Regions from separate parts of the Homo sapiens genome. Here region 2 is linked to region 1. Evidence: fine-mapped expression QTL. A gene starts in region 1. The other region holds a variant in brackets. All regions are shown on one strand. Distances are between the middles of the regions.

Region 1 (10,438 bases):
TAAAAAGTGCCACCAACACTTGTTAGATTAGGAAAAGATCCAGGCATTTCATACGCATCAAAAGGTGCCGCAGAAGGGATTGGGGGTTGTTTATCTGGTAAAAGCCCAGCATATGGTGCAGCCCAGCTCCCTGCTCCAGCTCTAGCTGCACTCTCTGAACCTGCCGTTAATTAGGTGCCATTGGTACAGGTGCTGGAGTCACAAGTTTAGCTGCTCAGGATTTGCACATAAATTAGTCAAAGAAAAGATAAACACTTTGGCAGGATAAGCATATTCTCAGGGTAGAAAGCAGGGTGTGTGTTTTCCAAACTTGTTTTAAAACTACTTATGAAAATTTATTTTAGAAAAGAAACTTTTATAAAAAGAATGCTGTGAATTGTGAAATCAAAGTGTAAAAATCAGCAGCTGAGTTTTTGTCTTTGAGACGAGAAAAGGGGAAAAGCAAATACAAAGACTTCCCTATCACTTGCTCCAGAATCATAACAGAAAAGAGTTCTCTTTGTTTTCCTCCAGTATATCAGACTTCCTCATACATACCTTTGCCTCATTGACATCATGTTTCAATCCTTATTAAAAACTTCTGCTGGCTGTGAGAAGGTCTACTAGAAATAGGAAATAAGTTCATCTCACTGGCCAAGGCAAGTCAATTTATAGTTGTGGCTCAAAGGAGCTCTGCTTGGGAGAGAATCTAGGGTTTAGCAGGAAGGAGTGCTGGTATTGATTAGTGATGTCTGCCATGGGCACATGCTAGGATTGAGAGCCACGTATGTCTTATCTCTGCTGCTCTGACTCATTAACAAGTCCCAATTCCACAAAGCAGTTCTTCTTTATGGTAAAGAGAATTGATGTTCCCTGCCCACCATCAAAGCTGCATGGCAGGAGTTTAAAGTGTGAACCAAGCCCCAAAACATCAATGAGAGTCACCTTCTCTCCTAATATACACAAAACAAATATGGCTCTGAGAAACACAAGACTCTAGGGCCTTGAGGAAAGAGCAGATGAAAGGCTTCCAGGGGAGGAGGGAAGGAAGCACATGGCCATGTTTACTGGGCAGGTGGAGCTGGGAGGCATGCAGGTTTACACTGGCTCATTCCAAGGTTTCCCTGAATTATGCAGAAACAATTCCAGATTGTTAGTTCTTAATTAGAGATGCCAAAGACAGAAATTAACAAACAATCTAATTAATATTGGAATCATAGTGAAGCTGACAGGAACAAAAGGTTGAGAATGCAGCAATATTTTTTCCTGGCCAACAGGAAAAACATGGCACATATCTAATTAGAATGGAACAATAAAATTCCAAATTACCAGCATAAAGGACAAAATTAAGCAATAACATCCAAACTGCCTGACAACTTATTCTTAGCTGTCTGGCTCCTAGTGATGAGCAAAGGAAAGAAATCTATGCACAGAAATAGAATGACAGTGTTTTTTTGTAGGAATTTTTGCCAATCATTGCTAAAGGAAAAAGAAGAAATAGCCTGAAACTTCTTTCGAGTTTTTCTATATGTTCTTCCAAATAAAATTCAAATCAGTCAGAGGGTTTCTTTGGAAGCCCATAGAAGACAAGGACCTTTTCCAGATAAGCCAGTGCAAAGAGTCTGTTCTGAACCCATTTCTTTCTCTTCATCAATACCTGTGGATTCCTCAGAAACACTCTCAATTCCACCCTTGCCTGTGGCTGAGCCTCTAGCTTCTATTTTGTTTACCTGATCCTACAGTGCACAACTTTTGGGGTAGATCAGACTGACAGTCCCCAGGCAGAATGTATTCATAGGCCCTTTCCAACTAAAAAGGTAACCAGTTCTCTATACATTGCCAAACACACAATGTTATTCAATTGAATGAGATTTTCAAGTCAAAAATCTTGCATAAAATCTACATTTCCAGAAACATCTGTTTTTAAATGAGATAGCAGTAAGAAGGAACTTTTTGTCCATTTTTAGGTACTGTGAATTTGGACATGTAATAGACTAATGTTTATTATTCAAAATATACTGAGTACACACACTTAAAATCCTTTCTGTGCTTCAGTTTCCTGAGCTGAAAAATGGGATAATACATCTACTTCATGGAAGGCTGTACAGATTGAATGTTGTAATGTATTTTTACAAAGTAGAACAAGTTCTGGCACAGTACCACTGGGTGTTGTAATGACGGTGTTGTCCTTGTTGCTATTACTGTATTTGAATAGACCATGGGGATAGAAATATTTACAAGGCATGGCACCTACCTCCAAGGGGCACATGCATCAACATGCACAAAGACATACAAAGTGCTGAGTCCCTAATGTGTCTGTACAGGACAATGGAAACACAGAGGTGAGATTCCTTGGCAGGGAGAGCAACAGGAAGGTGGCTGCACAGAACAGGGAGCACTTTAGCCAAGTCTCAGGGTGACTGGGAGGTATCCAGGTGAAGGAGTGGGAACAGGATTCCCAGTGCAGGGAATAGCATGAGCATGGGAAAACCATGAACAAAACCTCATCTTATTTTGAGACCTAAGTAGGTCCTAGTGTTTTGACAGTACAGGGAGCATCTCATGGAAGATGAAAATTTTCCTGTAGAATCAATCCTCACTCCTTGACCATGTGCTTCAAGTTAAGCCAATCCCACCTCCAGCTGCAGAGGTGGGTACATGACCCAGGCATGGCCAATCCACCTATTTTATTATATGGCCACAGTTCTACCAGATCAAAAATGGTCATGGGCATGAGACCCAGTGTTCTTTAAACCTGGAAATATTGTTGGAAGCACTAGAGAACAGAATCTTCCTTTTTGTGAACCTGAATGTGAAATGATGTAAACCTCTTAGCTGCTGCGGGTGACTATATAGAAATAATCCATCTGAGAATAAAGACAACATATGGGGATATCAGAAATAAGAGATGGAGAGTAACCAAATCCTAAGGAGCCTTTGGATCCAACTTAAAGTCATTATTACCTCTTCTAGTTACTTGCCCACTACACTTTCCTTCAGTGGCTCAAGCAAGTTATATTTGGATTTCTGTTATTTGCAAACAGGCAAACAGAATGCCCACAAATAGCTAGTGAGGGAATTCAGGTTATCCCTGCCAGATCTCACTACCTATCACACCTGTCCTACTCTGTTCCACCTGAATAATGATTCCTTTAGCTCAATGACCGCAGTTCAAATGTGCCTCTCTAAAGGACTAATTCAAAAAAAATATATTTCCTTCCATATTTTAATCTGAAAATTTAAAAACTTGAGGAAACCTCATCACAGAGCCCTTTTGTAGCTGCTGAAAATTAGCTCCGGAAATGCAGCTGCTCTATCAAAACTGCTGATCTTCACCAGAGGTGACATTGGGTTCTATTTAGTAACCAGCTTTCCACACACTGCCAAACAAGCAGCAGGAGAACCTTAGATTTCCTTGAGAGCTCATCCATCAGAAGATATTCTGCCTTAACCACTGGAAGGCTAAGTTTGAAAACAAGATGTCTCCCTGGGGATAGGAAGGCTTTTGCACACTAATGTCCTTTTACTAGCCCTCTAGAATCTCCTCATTGCTAGTCCAGCTGACGCTGGAAGCTGAGAAACTGAATTACTGCAGGGTAAAAAGGAGGGCACCATCTTTGAGACCAGCATGATTCTATGTTTTTTTTTCTTTCCAAGAATAAAGATGCTCATCTCCTGTTGATGATGCATGATGGACTTCTGGGGTTCTGGGAACCATCATTCATTGACAAAAATACAATTACTAATCCAATAAAAACAGGAGCCCACATATTAGAAAGATAGATCCCCAAAGATTACAAGAGAATCTTACTCTAAAAACCACATTTTCTGTCCTTCCTGTGAAGATGTACAAAGAAACTTGAGAAAGCTAGGAAAACATGTCTTCCTGCTATTTTTTTAACAAAGTATTTTACAAATACTTTGGAACAAGTCCACTACCAACTGATTCCTCTGATGGGGACCATAGGGATGGCATTTTGATACTAGCTCATAAGAACCTCCCCTAAGTATGTCCTGCACAACTACAAGGAATAACAGCTCAATAATTCTCCATGGTTAAGATTACAGGCTCTGGAGCCAGTCTTTTCAGATTGAATATATGATTGCTACACTCACTAGCTGAGTGGCCTTAGATGACTTTAATTAAACCATCTACACCTCCATCTACATCTCCTTATCTATGGACTGTGAAAGGTGGTATTTTCTACCTCAAAGGACTGTTATGAGAATTAAATGGATCAACACTTGTAGCAGCTGGCACATAATAAGTGTTAGCTATCAATATTCACTGTTCAATCAGTGTTAGCTATCAATATTCATTAGAGTGTAAGCTCCCAACGGCAGAAACCATATCCATTCCATCTTTGTGACTCGCACAACATTTTATACACTTTCCTATACATTATATATGTTCAATCAGTATATCTAGATTAAAATCACTCAGTAAGATCAAGGGAAGACTTGGTTCACAGGATCTTAGAACTCAGGTCCAAGTCTCCACCCATTGCCAAATCTGTTTGACACATAAGCCCTTCTGCCTCTTTTTGAAGATTTTCAGTGATGTTAAGTCCGCTCGGGATTGTCCAACAAAGATTGGACAGCCACTCTTAGGGTTTATTTCACCTCTGGATTCATTCATTCCTATGTTCAAAGTACTGATTGAGCACCATATATATATCAGGCACTGTGCAAGCACAGAGGACACGTGATTAGTAAAGGGACATAGCCCAGACTCCGTGGGTCCTACAGTCAAGTAGAGGTTAGAAGATAGAGGTGAAGATACGAATATGGATGTAACATAGATGTATATGTAGTATTTACTGATGTAGTGGAGGTCAAGCACTGTGTGACCCTTTTACAAACATCATTTCATTCTCTCCCAAATTTCACTGGTATTGCATCATACGACATTTAAACTAGTTAATTATAATTTATTTATCAGTGCTCAGCCTCTCTGTAGATTTCCACCTGACAACAGTTTATTATCAGAAGACATGAAAGAGAGAAGAATAAAATAGAGAGGGAAAAATTTAACTTAACTTCATTGTCTTCCTCCAAATCTTTCTTATCTATGACTCCATTCAATACTGCCTGTAAAACCAGTGTATGGTGAGGACCATATACTGCCCCATAAAATTTGCACATGGGTCAAATACAAGAAGAAATTAAAGCAAAGACAAAAACCAATTGGCCTGGGAACCTCTAAAAGCCTAGATGTTCTCCAAAACACTTTCAAAGATTTCTTGGATGAGTGTCAGTTCTGCTTCATGGACTGTCATTAGAACAGATCTCTAGAAAGGGTAGCTCCGCGCCTCAGCATTGTCATTCCCATTTTACAAATGAGGAAACTGGGCTTGGGGAAATTTAAGTAATTTTTCCCAAGATCAAATACATAGAAGATAGAACCAGGATTCGGACCAACATTATCTGTCTGAAAGCTTAACCAAAGAATTCAGTGGCTCTGCATTCTTTTTCCTTAAAGTAAGCTAAAAGTGGTTCCTTTTTAACTTCCCCTGTTGAAATATAAAAAGCACAAACCTACTCCATCTTCCACATGATGGCCCTTGAAAGACTTAAAAAGAGCTGTCAGTTCTCACTCTGTATGTTACCCCCAGGCTTTTTCTTCTCGGCATCAGGCTATACACTCTCACTTCCTTCAGGCAATTCTACTGTGATTTGATTTCAAAAGCCTTCAGCCCATGGACACTCTTCAGCAGAACACAATCTGACTTCCCATTGTTCTGTTTATGACCTAGAAAGAATTCTCTGTTGGAGTGACAGAGTGAGGGCTATCATCTGTTGCTCATTTTTGATGGAGACCAGTGTAAAAGAAATATCTCACATCACTCTGAAATCTACTGTCAGAAAGCCAGTAGCACAAATGTGACAAGAAATGACAAGAGCCCCTCACCCTCAGTGTGGAAGGCGAGAGGGAGTGGTGGAGATTACAGTGAGTTGGAGTGGTGGGGAGTGGAGAGCCTCTGTAGACAACTGGTCCACTCCAGATGATGATGACCGGCAGGAGTATGGGCGCAGGACAACCTGACCACATGGTGTTTCAAGAGGAGCTCGGAATCCAGATGTGAAATTAACAATGTTTGCATGCTGGAAATGGATTCAAATTTTAAAAAGTCAAACACACACACACAACCCTTCTGGACCAGATTTGGCATGAAGTACAGCAGCGTTGCCTGTGCTGGGACCATGCTCTGACTAATGCTGACGAAGATCACATCAGCCTCATGGCGACCTCTTCATTTGATTCATTGGCTCTTACTATTTATAAAGATGCCAAGATTTTTTCACACAGATGTTGCTGTTATGCTGCATATTTTGAAATTAATGAAAACTTTCTTAAACTAAGAGTAGAACTTTTTATCCTTCTTCCACCTGCCAGACTAGGTTGAGGTTCCAGTCTCTGAAAATTATTTTATTCTCCCAGATTCTGGACTCTTTAACAATTGTGTCCTCTGTCTTCTCCAAAGTCATACCAATCCTGAGATCAAAACTGCAAGCCAAGGCCCAGCGCGGTGGCTCACACCTATAATCCCAGCACTTTGGGAGTCCGAGGTGGGCAGATCACTAGTTCAAGAGATGGAGATGTTAATGCTGAAGACCTGAAATCAACAGAAAGGAATGTCTGGGTTACTATGATAAGGAGTAGAGAGTCCAAAGATTTATCATACAGATGAAGCCTGCAGGTAGCAAGCTTCAGAAAGAATATGGCCAACATGGTGAAACCCCGTCTCTATTAAAAATACACGTGGTGGCATGTGGCCGTGGTCCCAGCTACTCAGGAGGCTGAGGCAGGAGAAACACTTGAACCCAGGAGGCAGAGGTTGCAGTGAGCCCAGATCGCACCACTGCACTCCAGCTTGGCAACAGAGCAAGACTCTGTCTCAAAAAAAAAAAAAAAAAAAAAAGTGCAAGCCAAAAATAAAATCCTAAGGCCCTGAAATCATCTGAATGGACCCCTCTCCTCAGCCAAGGGCATCCCAAAGTTGGTTCAGGCCATAGGGAAGCAGGTCAGACATGCCTTGTGATACCCTCCTCCCTTTTGGAATTCAGGAAAAGCTGACCAGCATTAACATCAACACAAACCTTAAGTCTGATAAGAAACATTTATAATCTATTATTTTCGAAGCTTGATACCTGCAGGCTTCATCTTCATGACAAATCTTTGACTCCTCTATTCCTTATCATAGTAACCAGACATTCCTTTCTGTTGATTTCAGGTTGCCATTGCTTTTGGTGTTTTAGATATGAAGTCTTTGCCCATGCCTATGTCCTGAATGGTATTGCCTAGGTTTTCTTTTTTTATGGTTTTAGGTCTTTAGGATGGCCAGGGCAGGCGAGGGAGGGCAGGGTGGGACCAGACGGATGAACATGGCTGGGCGCGGTGGTTCACGCCTGTAATCCCAGCACTTTGGGAGGCCGAGGCGGGCAGATCATGAGATCAGGAGTTCGAGACCAGCCTGGCCAACAGACCAGCCTGGGCAATATGGTGAAACCCCGTCTCTACTCTTTCAAACAATTGCCAATTAGAACATTTTAAATCTACCTATAACTTGGCCCCCCTCCCTTGACTTCGAGTTGCCATTGCCCTGCCTTTCCAGATCTAACCAATGTACATCTTCTAGGTATTGATTGATGTATTATGCCTCCCTAAAAAGCATAAAAGCAAGCCGTACCTCGCCAACCTTAGGCACTGGGAGCATCCCTAACTTTGGCAAAATAAACTTTCTAAATTGATTGAGATCTGTCTCAGATACTTTTGAGTTCACAAATGCTGATATTCTCTTCATATCACCACAGTTTTCATTTTTCCAAATTCACACTTTCTCCCTTCCCTATATCCCAATCCACAGAATTTCCTCAGTCCACACTTTTCTTGCAGAAGCTCCATAAGATCCTTGCTATCTGTGGAGTATCCTCCTTGGGGATTGCTCGGCATTTCCTGAACTGACATGAGTGAAAATTCCACAGACTGGGGAGTGCTCCAAAAGGTGCTACTGAGGGTTCACACTGTCCTCAATGACCTGGCATATCACAAAGTCAACGCTAAGGAAAGCACATCTTTGAGGATGAGTCCATTCCTCGAGGAGTCCTGGCAACATGCATCATTAATATGGGCAGTACACCTTGGAAAACTACAATACATCTGATTTATTAAGTCCCCTCAATTTATACAGGCCAGGAGTTGAACAGAACCTGGACCTAGAATGGTGATGAAGCAGCCTCCATGTTTGGTGATTTGCAAACTCAGTATGTTCTCCTGGAGATCAAGCTTCAGTTTTCTGTCAAGAAATTCCCATATTCAGGTAGCTACAACAGTGACCATGCAGCACATAACTCCTGTTTTCCAAAGTGACGTATCTGTCAGGTTGGGGAGAGGGTATTCAGTATGTTTCTGTAGAATGGAGACAATTAAGTACAGTGCATAATGGAATCCAACTCTCCAAGAGCTTGGATTTGCCTCTCTTAGGGTGGAATCTCGAGGGCAAGAGATTGAGGTCTCTACCTTGTGGGGCTCCACACCAGGCTCTCTGGAGAGGACCTGCAGAGGCAAGTCATTTGTTTGGTCCATAGTAGCATCAGCCTGCAGATACAGTCTTTCTCTAAACACCACAATTCTTGGCTCCTTTGGTAATAATGAATGCTATGGCAACGCTAAATAATGAATATCGTCAGAGGCAACCGAGGAAAATGAGTCATCAATTTTATTTTGTTCCTGAGCAGATGATTGCCTGTGACTTGGCTCAGACCGTTTTAAACTCCAAATATTTAAGGCCCTTGATTTGTTTAATTAAACCTGCCAGGAGCCTCAGCACAGGGCTGCATAAAGTTGTTAAGCTATTTCGCCTTCTATCTCAGGAAAAATTAACTTCCCAAGCCCAGGAAACAGACTGTATAAAATTTCTGTTTCCTCAGGATTATTATCATTATTATTTTAAAAATTATACTTCACAGAAACAGCATTGTTTCTTTATGGAAACCATATCTGGCTTAAGGCACAGCCTCCCTGGAAGCCTTCACCAAGCTGTGATCTAAAACATGAACAAATCAACTGCTCTCAGATCTGCTCTACCATGGGAGAATACCCTAAAGGCTTTTCTGCCTACCATGAAGTTCTTAAGACTGAAACCAAGTTTCACTGAACCTCTAAACAGGAGCCAGTGGAATGGCATGAAGGACTTAGCTTAGCATTATTGTATTTATCTAAAATGAATGAATAGATTGAACCTGGAGGTTCTCTTAGCAACTTAAAGGAGAAAAGATGATTCTAAAATTTTAAATCCTTTCTCCATGAGGTCTTTGTTAGAAAAAAAAGAAAATAGGTGGGAACACTAAATTGGGTTGTTCAGACACCTGCAAAGAACAAGAAAACAAAAATGGGATGATTTCTGGCTGAATTTAGGACCATAAATCCAGCTAATTGGAATAATAATAAAAAAAAGCAGCAGAAATGTACCATGGCTCAATTTCCTCAATTTTGATTAACCTAATATAAGGATTAACCAGTGGATAATATTATATTAGGTTAGTTGTCACATGGATGAATGTTTTTTAATAGTCATTGAGTTTCATGCATATAGGGAGTGAGGGAAGGAAGGAACATAGAAGGGAGGGAGGGAATTCTTTTTGCTGGAGATTAAAGGTCAGGGATTCCCCTTTCAAGGGAGAGGGAAGCAGCATCGCCTGCTGCAGCCGCCTGCTGATTCCAGGGAGTCTCTGCGGTCAGCTGTTTCCTCCTTCATGAGGTCATTCTGGTTTCCAGCCCTTTAGAGCATGGGATGCTCAGTCAGAACCACACCTTGGAGACAAAAGAAGGAACGACAAAAAGCTCTGAACACTTAGGACTTCTGTAGATAAATCTCCCCTTACCTTAATGACATCTTCATTGGCAGACTTGCATTCCACAGACTCAGACACATAGACCACAGAACCATCCTCCTGGACCCTCACGACTTTGACAGGAACTGAAACAGGCTTTCCAGTGAGAATGGCAGTGTTCAAAACCTCAGTGTCCTAAACAGGAGAGGAGAGGGCTCAGATCAGCAAATGCGCACACCACCGGGGCAAGAGGGAGAGGGGTGTCCACCAAGCTCCCTACTGCCTTCATTCTCATTCTGTAATTTAGACAGTTGTCCAGAGGGATGAAGCCACGAAGCACACACAAAATGGAAGTTTCCAAACAATTGGATGGCATTCCATCCCAGACTGAGATATCAAACCTGATGGTTGGTTGGAATGTCTTCTCAGTACCCAGGTGCAGGGTCATTCTCCCTCTCCCTGACCTCCTCTCCCTTACTCCACCCCCCGCCGCCCTCTGTCTCACAGACTCACACATAGCACACGAGTTCCTTTCAGTATTTTCAAATCTTGGCTCAAGGATCATTTGGGAAGTGACTACCTATTTTCTGGACTTATTAACATAGTGAACATAGACTTCATTGTG
Region 2 (10,438 bases), 15 kb before region 1:
AAGATGTATTATGAGGCTGGCTGGTCTGAATGGCACAGTGGCCCTGGTATCTTCAAAAATGATTTGTGCAAGTTTAAAGACGAGAGAGAGTTTCAGAGTTGACAATAATTGCTGTAAACAGTAGCAATTTAGTATCTATTAGCCATGCTTGTTCAAGTAGCTGAAATGGAATTTCTAAGCATTGCAAACCAACTGCTTTGGCAAAAGCAAAAACATGTGATCCTTTGGTCATGATCTAGCAGCAGGCTGTGCCTAGCACAGATAAGCCCAGGGCAAAGCAAATGGTGTATGGGGATACGGTCGGCGTGGAAAAGCACATAAGAGGAAATGTGTCTAAGCCACTGAATACTTTTCTCAGAGACAGAGCAGCCTGGATAAGAAGCAAGAAGCTTCAAGAATCCCCAGTCCTAGGCATGAGGGCTGTCCTGCTCTCCTTCGCAGGATGTGCTAACTGAGAGAGAAGTCATCTCCACTGACCAGGGATGCAGGGCCCCTGGAACGCTCACCTGCTGTGGGGAATGAAGAACATCCAGGGCAGTGGCTGTGGAGACTATGGCCCTTTTGTCTGCTGGTTGAGGCTGCAGGGAGAGAGACATGCCAGCCATGAGCTGCACTCCCAGCTCTGCGATGGTGACTCAGTCATCCAGGACAATCACCGTCTTCTCAGCCAGGATGGAGTCCAAGAGTGGCAAGAAGACCTGAAATGTAGGCGAGGAGGCTCATGCATCTCTGTTCCTCATAAGCACCATGAATCCCTTAACTTAGGGCTCCCAACAAAGTGCTCTCCCAGCCCTCAGCTCAATGCATATGCTTGTGGGAATTCCTTAGGAAAGTGTTATGCTACGATTCCATTACACTTGCCAATTTAAAAGGGAGTTCAGAAAGTATCATCTTGGTCCATTTTCTTTCCTTATTGGTAAAAATATATGATAACAATAACAGTACATTTTCTGAGAACTTCATTTAATTAAGGGACAATAACTCAAAACAGCCCATTTAGAAATACTGAATGCTCAAAGAATAACATTTTCCCATCAACTGGGATTAATGTTTCAAAAATTGCAGAATTGCAATAAACTGTTTAAAGGAATGGTGTTCATATCTCTTCTGCTCATAGTCCATCCAGCAGGCAGGTAGATGTTTACTATGGGACAGTAATGATCATTGTGTGGGCTGCTGCACCATCACCTTTGTTGGCAGAGGCCTTCTAGTCTGTACAGAAGCAGCTTCCTGAGCTTATGGTCCTAAGGTTGCCAGAGGACCCCCTCCATCCACCATCCTGCCCTAATCAAAAATCACTGCTCTCTGAGCTAAGCTACTTGTATTACTGCTAAGACATCTGAAATGTGTCTCTCGTGTTGCCTATCTTGGTTTCTCTCTTCCTTCCTCGGGGTTCCAGCCCTTCCTCTCACTCTGGCACATGCTCTACTCTGACCTTCACCTGTCCAGAACCCACCCTGAAACAGCCTCTCTGGCTCTGCAACTCCAGAAACTTCCCCTCAAGAAGTAGCTGTCCTGTGTCCCTTTATGAGAACACTTTGTTTGGTTGCCACTGCCTAGTCTGTGTGTTTAGTAGCTGGGGATTGTGGCAGGGGAGAAAGAGGAGTGACTCATGGGTCCTGAGTGAGACCTGTTGGGTGCCCTGCTGCATGTGCTCATGGGAGAAAGAGAGCTGACATCAACTTCCCCAGCAGCACAGGACAGCCATGCATGTTCAACCCACGTAAGCTTCACAGAACTTCAAAGAGTGTGGTTGAATTATTTCTCTGATATTACCGATAAGGAAACCAAGGCATGGCAGAGAGAGGCCACCCATCCAGGGCCACACAGCTGGTCATCTGCAGAAGCAGGGTCTGTGCCCACGTAGACCACCTGTTGTGACCTCTTCCTTTCTATAGCTAAATCCATTCGTCTTCTCAACAGGTATGAAATACATCCTTATTTTTGCATGAAGAAACCAAGGCTCAGAGAGGCTTATGGGTGGCCCAGATAATTGTGAATTAGCACATTGGGATCCAGCTCCATTTCACTTTTGAAACCCAACTTCTTTACAATATGCTGTTCTGCCTCCCTGTAAGGTCTGAGAATTACACTTACCTGGAAGGGAAGATACCATGATCATGAAGGTGGTTTTCCCAGGGCGAGGCTTGTCTATTGCACACTTCGAGAACCATTTACTTGTATTACTGCTAAAACATCTGAAATGTGTCTTTCCTGTTGCCAATCATGGCTTCTTTCTTCCTTCCTTAGAGCTGCAGCTCTAAGTGATAGGAAAATTTTCGCCAGCATAGTAAGAGCAATTTGGGTTTCCCAAAGTGCAAGGTGAATATTTCAATGGGTAAAACAAATAATTTTCAATGAAAAAATTATAGGTAGCAGGAACATAGCATTTAAAAACAGAAGGAAAAGTTATGAGCTCAATCCTTTCCATGATATTAGGAGAAATTCTCTGTTCAGTGCTGGAATGTCTTCAACAGTTCTCTGACCCTTGCTGTTCTTCATTAGTTAATAAAGACAAACTCATAGACATAGGCAGACCATAGTATCTACTCAGATTTTTAATAGTATCAGTTTATTTTTTCCAAATTCATTTTTATTTGACTTTTTACTACATGGTGGATTGTACTATTTTTTGTGTGTCAGTAAGATGAAGCACCCTAATTTAAGTAAGGATTAAAGAGCTTAACAGGAACAATAATAAAGGTGGCATTTGAAAAAGGAAGTATCTTGAAAGTGGTACGTGGATAAATGAAGTTTTAGAGCTGCCATATAAATGGAAGTAAAACAGGTTGGATTAGTCTGTTCTGATTCTGCTAATAAAGATATAGCCAAGACTGGGTAATTTATAAAGAAAAGAGGTTTAATCGACACACAGTTCCATGGCTGTGTGGCCAGAGAGTCCTCACAATCATGGCAGAAGGTGAAGGAAGAGCAAAGTCACATCTCACATGGCAGCAGGCAAGAGATCTTATGTAGGGGAACTCCCCTTTATAAAACCAGATCTCATGAGACCAGATCTCCCCTTTATAAAACTACCAGATCTCATGAGACTTCTCCACTATCATGAGAACAGCACAGGAAAGACCCACCCCTATGATTCAATTACCTCCCACTGGATCCCTCCCACAACACGTGGGAATTATGAGAGCTACAATTCAAGATGAGATTTGGGTAGGGACACAGCCAAATCATATCAGAGGTCTATTTTAAGACATATTATACCATATTCAATATCATATCTTTGTTTTGTACCCTAACTCTGTAGACACCTGTGAACTCTATGTCACTTTTATTCACCTTTGCATCTCCAAGGCCTATAGCACTAGGCGGAAATACACTTAAAAATATGTTTAACTATTTTAACTATCTTGCATTGTTGTGATATTTTTGCAGTGTGACATCCATCTTAAAAAGCAAAATGTGCACAATCTTCCTCCAAATGTGCCATTCTCAGTGGTTCCTTTGCCTTTAGAGGCGAAAGCTTCATTCGTACAAACCAGACTTCCCTCTCTGTTTCATTAATGGACTTAGAGGCTTCCTGTTCAGTAACCAGCAATGAAAAATTACTTTTAATTACTTCTTCTAACCCAGGAAAGGCATGCCATTTTTCAGTTACCAGGTATAGATGGCAATAGAGAGAGATGAGAGATGTGGAGCAAAAACTCTCATACAACCCATTCCCCACCTACCACGGCCCAGCCCAGGGAGGAAGCACAGCTTCAGGGCTCTGGCTGCAATGTACAGGCAACAGGAATATGAAAAGAGGTGCACGGACACAGGTGGTCCCAAGAGAGGGTGATGGAGACCCGTGCTGTCCTCCCAGCCCCATATATGTGCAGGGCACTCCTGGCGTCTGTGGGCTGCCACCCGGATCCAGCAAACATTCTTCTTGAAGGCCCAAAGAACTTTGCTTCCTCCTCTTTATCATGAACTGATCAATAGATATTTTCCATGAGCCCTACTGAGTGCCAGGCCAGGTTCTATGCTCTGGGGAAGCAGTAGTGAGTGAAACAGATTTGTCCTCTGTGCCTGGGAAGCTTATATTTTAGAAAACGGGAGGGAGATATTACAAAAATATTAAAACATAATAATAGTTATAATTTCATGTGTGTTTAATGGGTTCCTCACTTCTATTCTCCCCTTTTCTTGGAAGGCTGAATATTGGCAAACTCACTATTTTTAACCTGAAGAGCTGACCTTGCAATGTGGTTTCCTGCCCATTCTATTATTAATAGAATCTTGAACCAAAGCAAGTAGAATCACGTGTGTGAAAGGCCTGATCTCCTACTCAAAACCATCCAGGAATTAAACAGCATGGATGATATCTCAGTTCAAGTTCCTTGCGTGTGAGGGGGGATTGAAGAAGCTGCCAACAGAGGGACCATCAGCTACTTGGGTCCTTCCTGTGATGTCCCTGAGAGCAGAGGCATGGTGGTGGTGTGGGGAGGTTAGGGGAGCTTTGTAGTTGCCTCTGCCACTGGATGCAGACACCTCAGGCATGGTAGGATTCCTCTGAGCCTCAGGCTCTGCATCTGGAATAGAGGGTATTCATTCTCAGCTTCACAAAGCTACTATCTAAGCATCAAATCAGAGCAATTTGGAAACGGTGAAGGGCGGACCACATCTCAGTGACATGACTGTGTTTTGCTTTGAGTGGGGTAAAGGGAAAGCAAGCTTTTAACAGGAAAAGTGGAATAAAATGCTCAGGAACACCTAAGGAACAAACCCACCCTGGAACACACAGTGGCTGTGAAATAATGAGGTTGCTTTCTAGGCCGTGGCATGGAAAGCCTCCGGGATTTACTGTGGAATGAGAAAACCGAACAAGAGCAGCATGGTGTATACAGCGTACTCCATTCAGTGCAAGAATGAAAAAGGAAAAGGTATAATAGTGTGCATTATTATTTTATTTTATTTTATTTAAAAAAAACAAGAAGAAAAATGAAAAAATACTACAGATAGAATTGGAAGGAAATTGCTGGAAGTAGATAGGGTGAGGATAAACTTTTCAATGTATACTTTTTATGTTGTTTGATTTTGGACTAAGTTATTATGTTTCTTTTTTCAAAAAATAAAATAAGTTTTAAACATTGAGCAATGTTTTTCTTCTCTGGTATCCTTCCATCTTGAGCAGTTTCTGCAGTACTTCAGAAACAGAACATAGAGAGAATTTAATTTCCTGGACTCTTTAGATCAGGAAACTTAACTTGACTTTCTTCCTATTGAGGATATCAAGATATTTGGGTATGTTAATCTACTGCCATCTTCAGAAGCTTTCCCTTCAAGGAGAAAATGCCTTTCAGCTTAAGCAACAAAATATTTGCTTAGGTGTATTATTAATATACCACTCTGGAAGCAAAGTTTTCTGAATAATTCAAAGATTGTTGAGCAGAGAAAACCTGTCATCCTGTAATCAGTGTTTTATCTTATATTTTCACCAGCCCTTGAAATTACTCTTCAGTGACGCTTACTGGCACAATCTGCTACAAGAAACAGCTAGACGTTTTTGACT[G/A]TACAGCTTAGTTTTGGGCTTCTGTCCTCTGCAAGAAAAAGAAAACATCACTGAAACAAACACTGGTGATCTGGAAAGAAGCCAAAGCATGATATAAATAACCTGCTTGAGGCTGATCAGGCCCCATAACCCTCAAATGCCACCTTCTTCTCAGTGGCCGATGAAGTCTCAAAAGGTCTTTAACGACACCATCAGTTAGTTCCTCTTCTGTCTCCTCCTCTTTCTCCTTTCTTCTCATTCCCCCTTCTTACTCTTTCCCTTCCTCCTCCTCCATCTTCATCATCTTCTTTTTCTTCTCCTTGTTCTTACCCAAGACAAGGAAGAGGAAGAATGATTTTGGTGGAGAGGTAGCTGTTCTGTCATAGGTATGATCATCTATCTATAATTTGAGTGCTTTTTTGTTTATTGTTTGTTTTTAAATGGGCCTCCTTTGCCAAATGTGCTGCCTTGCTTTGGCTTACATTCCCTAGCACCCCGTGCATGTAGACATAGTCACATGAGACATGTTAACCGATAGAATTGGAGAAATATAAAAATAATTCATGTAATTCCTGCTGCCTCTGGACCAAAAGATTTTAAGAAGTAGTTTTGCCTCCTCCATGCTCTCTTTACCAGACCCAGACAACGATAAAGCCCAAGATGATGGCAGAGCCTGAGGATGGAAGGCTCTTGGGGCCTCTGGGGCTCTGCAGCCATTGAGGAGAGTTACCTCATACTCAGGAATGCCCACTGTGGACTACCAAGTAAGCTGGAAAAAACCTGTGCTATGTTTGATCTATAATACATCAGGAATATATTTGATTCAGTATTTTAGCATACTTGCAATAATACAATAGTAATTTCTAGAAATTTTCAATAATTTTTTAGTGCTTACTTTTTGCCAGGTATGATTTTAAGTGCTTCGCAGATATATTTCATTGAATTCTCTGGACAACTAGGAAGTATAATTCTCATCCTCAATTTGTAGGTGAGGAAACTGAGAAACAGAAGTTAAATAACAAGTCTGGAGTCATGCAGGTATAAGGGTCAGAGCCAGGAGTAACACCAGGCAGTCTGACTCCAGACTCCACACCCTCACCCAATGTACTGAAGTCTATGGACTTTGGTTGGCATCCACAAATAGCTGAAAATGAATAACACAGGAAAGAACAATAGGGAAATTAGAATAAAAGTAACTACAGCTGTCGTCTAAAGGCCCGGTTTTGTGCTCAGTGCTTCTAAGTATTGCATTATTTTACTTAAACTTAATAACCATCCTATGAGATAGACACGATTATTCTTCCCATTTTAATTTTTTCACATCAAAGTGCTAGTAAATATGCAAGTCAGATCCATCTGACCAAGCCCAGACCATTGTTAACTATTGTGGATTATTCTTTCCTAGGGTCTGAGCCCCGGAGAGCCAGTTTTATCCCATTTATAAAGAGTTCTAAAGGTTCTGAGTCCCAGGAGCATCAGATCCACAGTCTCCTCTCTGGTTTCTCAGCTTCTGTTGGAGGCCACTAAAATTCTCCAGCCCTTGTTGTAGCTCACTCCATGTTCCAGATCTCAATCTGCCAAAGGAGTCTCGGCGTCCAGATGGTGGCCTCATACTGAGAGGGAAGGTGCTGCAGGTGAAGGTCACCATGTGCCTCATTTCCTTCCCATTCATAAAATGGATTCACAGTTGCTAGAAACCTTTGGGGAGGAGGTAGAACCTTGAGATACATCAACAGGAAAAGCACCAGCAAAAATTGAAAATAGTGAAAGTTCATGAGACACAATAGTTCTGATTTATAAGACACCAAGACAACCAGAAGAACAGGACTTGTACAAAAGGTAATTTGTAGGCACTGATTAGTGACAAATACTAAAAAGTATTTGTCTTACCAAGAAAACTATTTGGTATTACAAAATACTGACAAGTAAAACCATACATATAATTTCATAAAGTAACATAAGCTTTGTTGCCACATATGTGTTTGCGTGTGTGTGTGTGTGTGTGTGTGTGTTCTTTAACAGGTCTGCTCAACCTACTGTTAATCAAACAAAAATTCTTGTACCATATTGGAAAATATATAAAAGGTGGCCATGTGTTACCAAAAAATCACTTTATTCAACCCATAAAGGGGATCACTTTTTTGTTAATCATGAGAGCTTTGCACTAGATTAAAATCTTGATAAGAAAATATTCACAAAATGCACTGGAAATATCAATGTTTTGCCCCCATTAAACTGTAATCTTGTGGAAAAGAAGTGAGACTGTGGTATTTCATTACATTCTCTTTATTCGGGACTTAGGATTAGCCTCTTTAACGTGCGTAAGTAGGCAGGTTAAGTATTAGACAATTTAAGCCTCCATTTCACTTCACATCTTCCAGATAAGCTATTAAAATATTGCTGAATTTCTCTCCTGGACCATCAGGAAAATGCATTTATGTGTGTAGAAGGAAAGAGGAAGGAGGATGCAAAATAAGCCATCAATTCACCACAGATTCATAAAACTGTAAGGGGCCCGCAATGTCATTTTACAGATGAAGAAACTGAAGCCAGCGAGGTGGCATAGCTGGCTCAAGATCACACACATCGTTGACGGGTGCAACGTCAGACTGGTTGCTGGCTGAGTTCTCCATCTCAGCAAGTGGTGCCGCCATGCAGCCTCTTTAGCAAGCTGCAAACTGGGACTGTTCTTGATGTTTCTCTTCCTCACCCAAGTGTCTATTTACAGCTCAGACCTCCCTTCTGAGCTCCAGATGCATGTGCCTCTTGACATCATCAGATGAAAGGCTCAATAGTTTCTTAGCGGCCAAACATACAAAATCAAACTCACGATCTCCTATTTCCCCCACAGCACAGTCTTCCATCTCAATAACTAACATTGCCTTTTATCCAGCAGAACAAATTGAACATCACGATGTCTTCTTTAATTCCACCCATGTTCTTCACCACCGACATGCAACACTTCAAGTTCTCTTGGTTTTACTCCTAGGTGTCTTTTGTGCCTACGAATTTCTCTTCGCTGCTATTATACTAGCCCAGACCTCCATCACTTCCCACCTGGACATTTGCCACAACTTCAAAACTGCTCTCTTCACATCCCCTCTTCCCACACTGCCCTACTCTTCCTTGAGAGATTGTGTATGCAAATATGATCTAATCGTCTCCTGCTTACAGCCCTTTGATGGTTTCCCTTGGCTTTCAGGATCTCTGACTCAGTCTCCGTTATTAGCCCTATCTATTTCCAAATCTCCTCTCCCACCTTCTTTTGGTCACTCAATGATCCAGCCCCACGGAGGTACTTTTAGTATCTCCAGGGGCTGTGCCATAACTATTAACCTCAGGGCCTCTGGCCATGTGATTCCCTCTTCCTGGAACAGACACTTCCATGACTGCCTTGGTTGTTTTATTCGCTCAGCATTTATTCTTTCTGCCTATCTAAGCGCGAGTCACTTCCTCGGAGAAGCTTCCCAAATCTGCCTGGACTTGATGTGCTCTTTGCATGTGGTATGCAGACCTCCATGAAAATAGCCGGGCTTGCTACAAACAAGAAGGCTGCAATGGATGCATTAGGAAGTTCTTCACCTTCTCCATTGTTCTGGTGGTTGTCCCCTACTACAAGGACTTCCTGATCCTATCTCCTGTAGAGAAGACCTCTACATTCCTGCATTTGTGGAAAATTTTGATTTGACCATATATACTCCCTCTCGCTCCCCGCCCTCACCACCAATTTTACTTCAAATCATTTTGAATCACATCCGATTGTCAGGAACATATCGACTTTAGAAATCTTGAGGCCCTTTCTGTACATAAGAAATGAAATCACATTGCAGTGACCCTCGGCATTCTTTCAGAGCACATGCAGACTTAAATTTGCCTCAGCTTTCAGGAATTGAGAGATAGCCCACATGGAAAAATAAGTGAAAAATGAAACTAAGTGAGAGGCTTTGGCAATTCTGCGTGACTATTATTTGAGTTATTTCTTATGGGATATGCATTATCTTAAAAAAAAAAAAAGTGTTTCTTAGTAGCCATGTGACCACACACCAGCCCCCTGCCCAACTCACACACACACACACACACACACACTCTCACACTCTCTTTTAATAGTAATAAGGTTTTCTTCAGATAACCCTCCATTCACCATGTGCCCCTCTAACTCAGTAATTAAACCCCCATCCTCCTTGCCAGTGATTGATTTATGGGGAAAGCATGTGCTATTACTCTGGCCAATGAGCTGTGAGAAGTCCACGGCAGGGCTTCTGGGAAAGGCCTACTTGGTCAAAGAGACTCATGGGAAGTGGTGCCTCCTCCTCCTACAGGATGTTGTCGCATAGGAAATGACGACAGGAACTGCCCCAGAGATCCCAGAGCCCTGAGGGAGCCCAAAATGGGCCAGGCTGACCCTGCGAGTTCAGATGGACAGAAAGACAGAGGAACTCGGGACTTGATGACCTAGAGGGGCTGCTGGACCAGCTGCCTGGAACCTCCCCACTATGAGATGCCCTTCTTGTTGGTAAAGCCATCTGGATCTATGTGGTTTTGTTACTTGCCACCAAAAGGATTATAAATGATACAGGACCTCATCTCAAATGCCACTCCTCAGTATACATTCCTTGAGCCATTTCTAATTTAAACTTGGCACCCTCCTCTGGTTACTCTTTGTCTCCATTACACTATTTTCCTGTATCTAATTTGCTGTGTGTGCTACTGTGCACACTTATATTTACAACATTGATGCATTACTTAGACTCTTCGTATTGCTTATATCATGTCACTTACACTGTATTAATCACACCAGATTGCTCTGTTATATGATGAACTCCTTCACAGTAATTACCACTCTCGGAACCCTCCTGGTTGTTTCTTATCTCTCTTCCCCACCTGAAGGTAATCTGCTTGAGACCATGACCTGTCTCCTCTTCCCTACTATCTCTGCTAATAGGACAG

What was found.
Region 2: its variant is fine-mapped to the expression of LINC02375 in testis (GTEx, PIP above 0.99).

The regions. Positions count from the first base shown.
Region 1 is chr12:127,334,393-127,344,830 of GRCh38, forward strand. It overlaps LINC02375 (long intergenic non-protein coding RNA 2375), which reads right to left and starts at 5,680. Exons shown (of 3, transcript NR_110057.1): 1 at 5,577-5,680.
Region 2 is chr12:127,319,266-127,329,703 of GRCh38, forward strand. LINC02375 (long intergenic non-protein coding RNA 2375) reads right to left here. Exons shown (of 3, transcript NR_110057.1): 3 at 4,890-5,540. It also overlaps the pseudogene LOC100420116 and the pseudogene RNU1-104P. Among named protein-coding and RNA genes, the nearest start is that of LINC02375, 16 kb to the right of the region's middle. The variant G/A (reference allele first, on the strand shown) is at 5,513.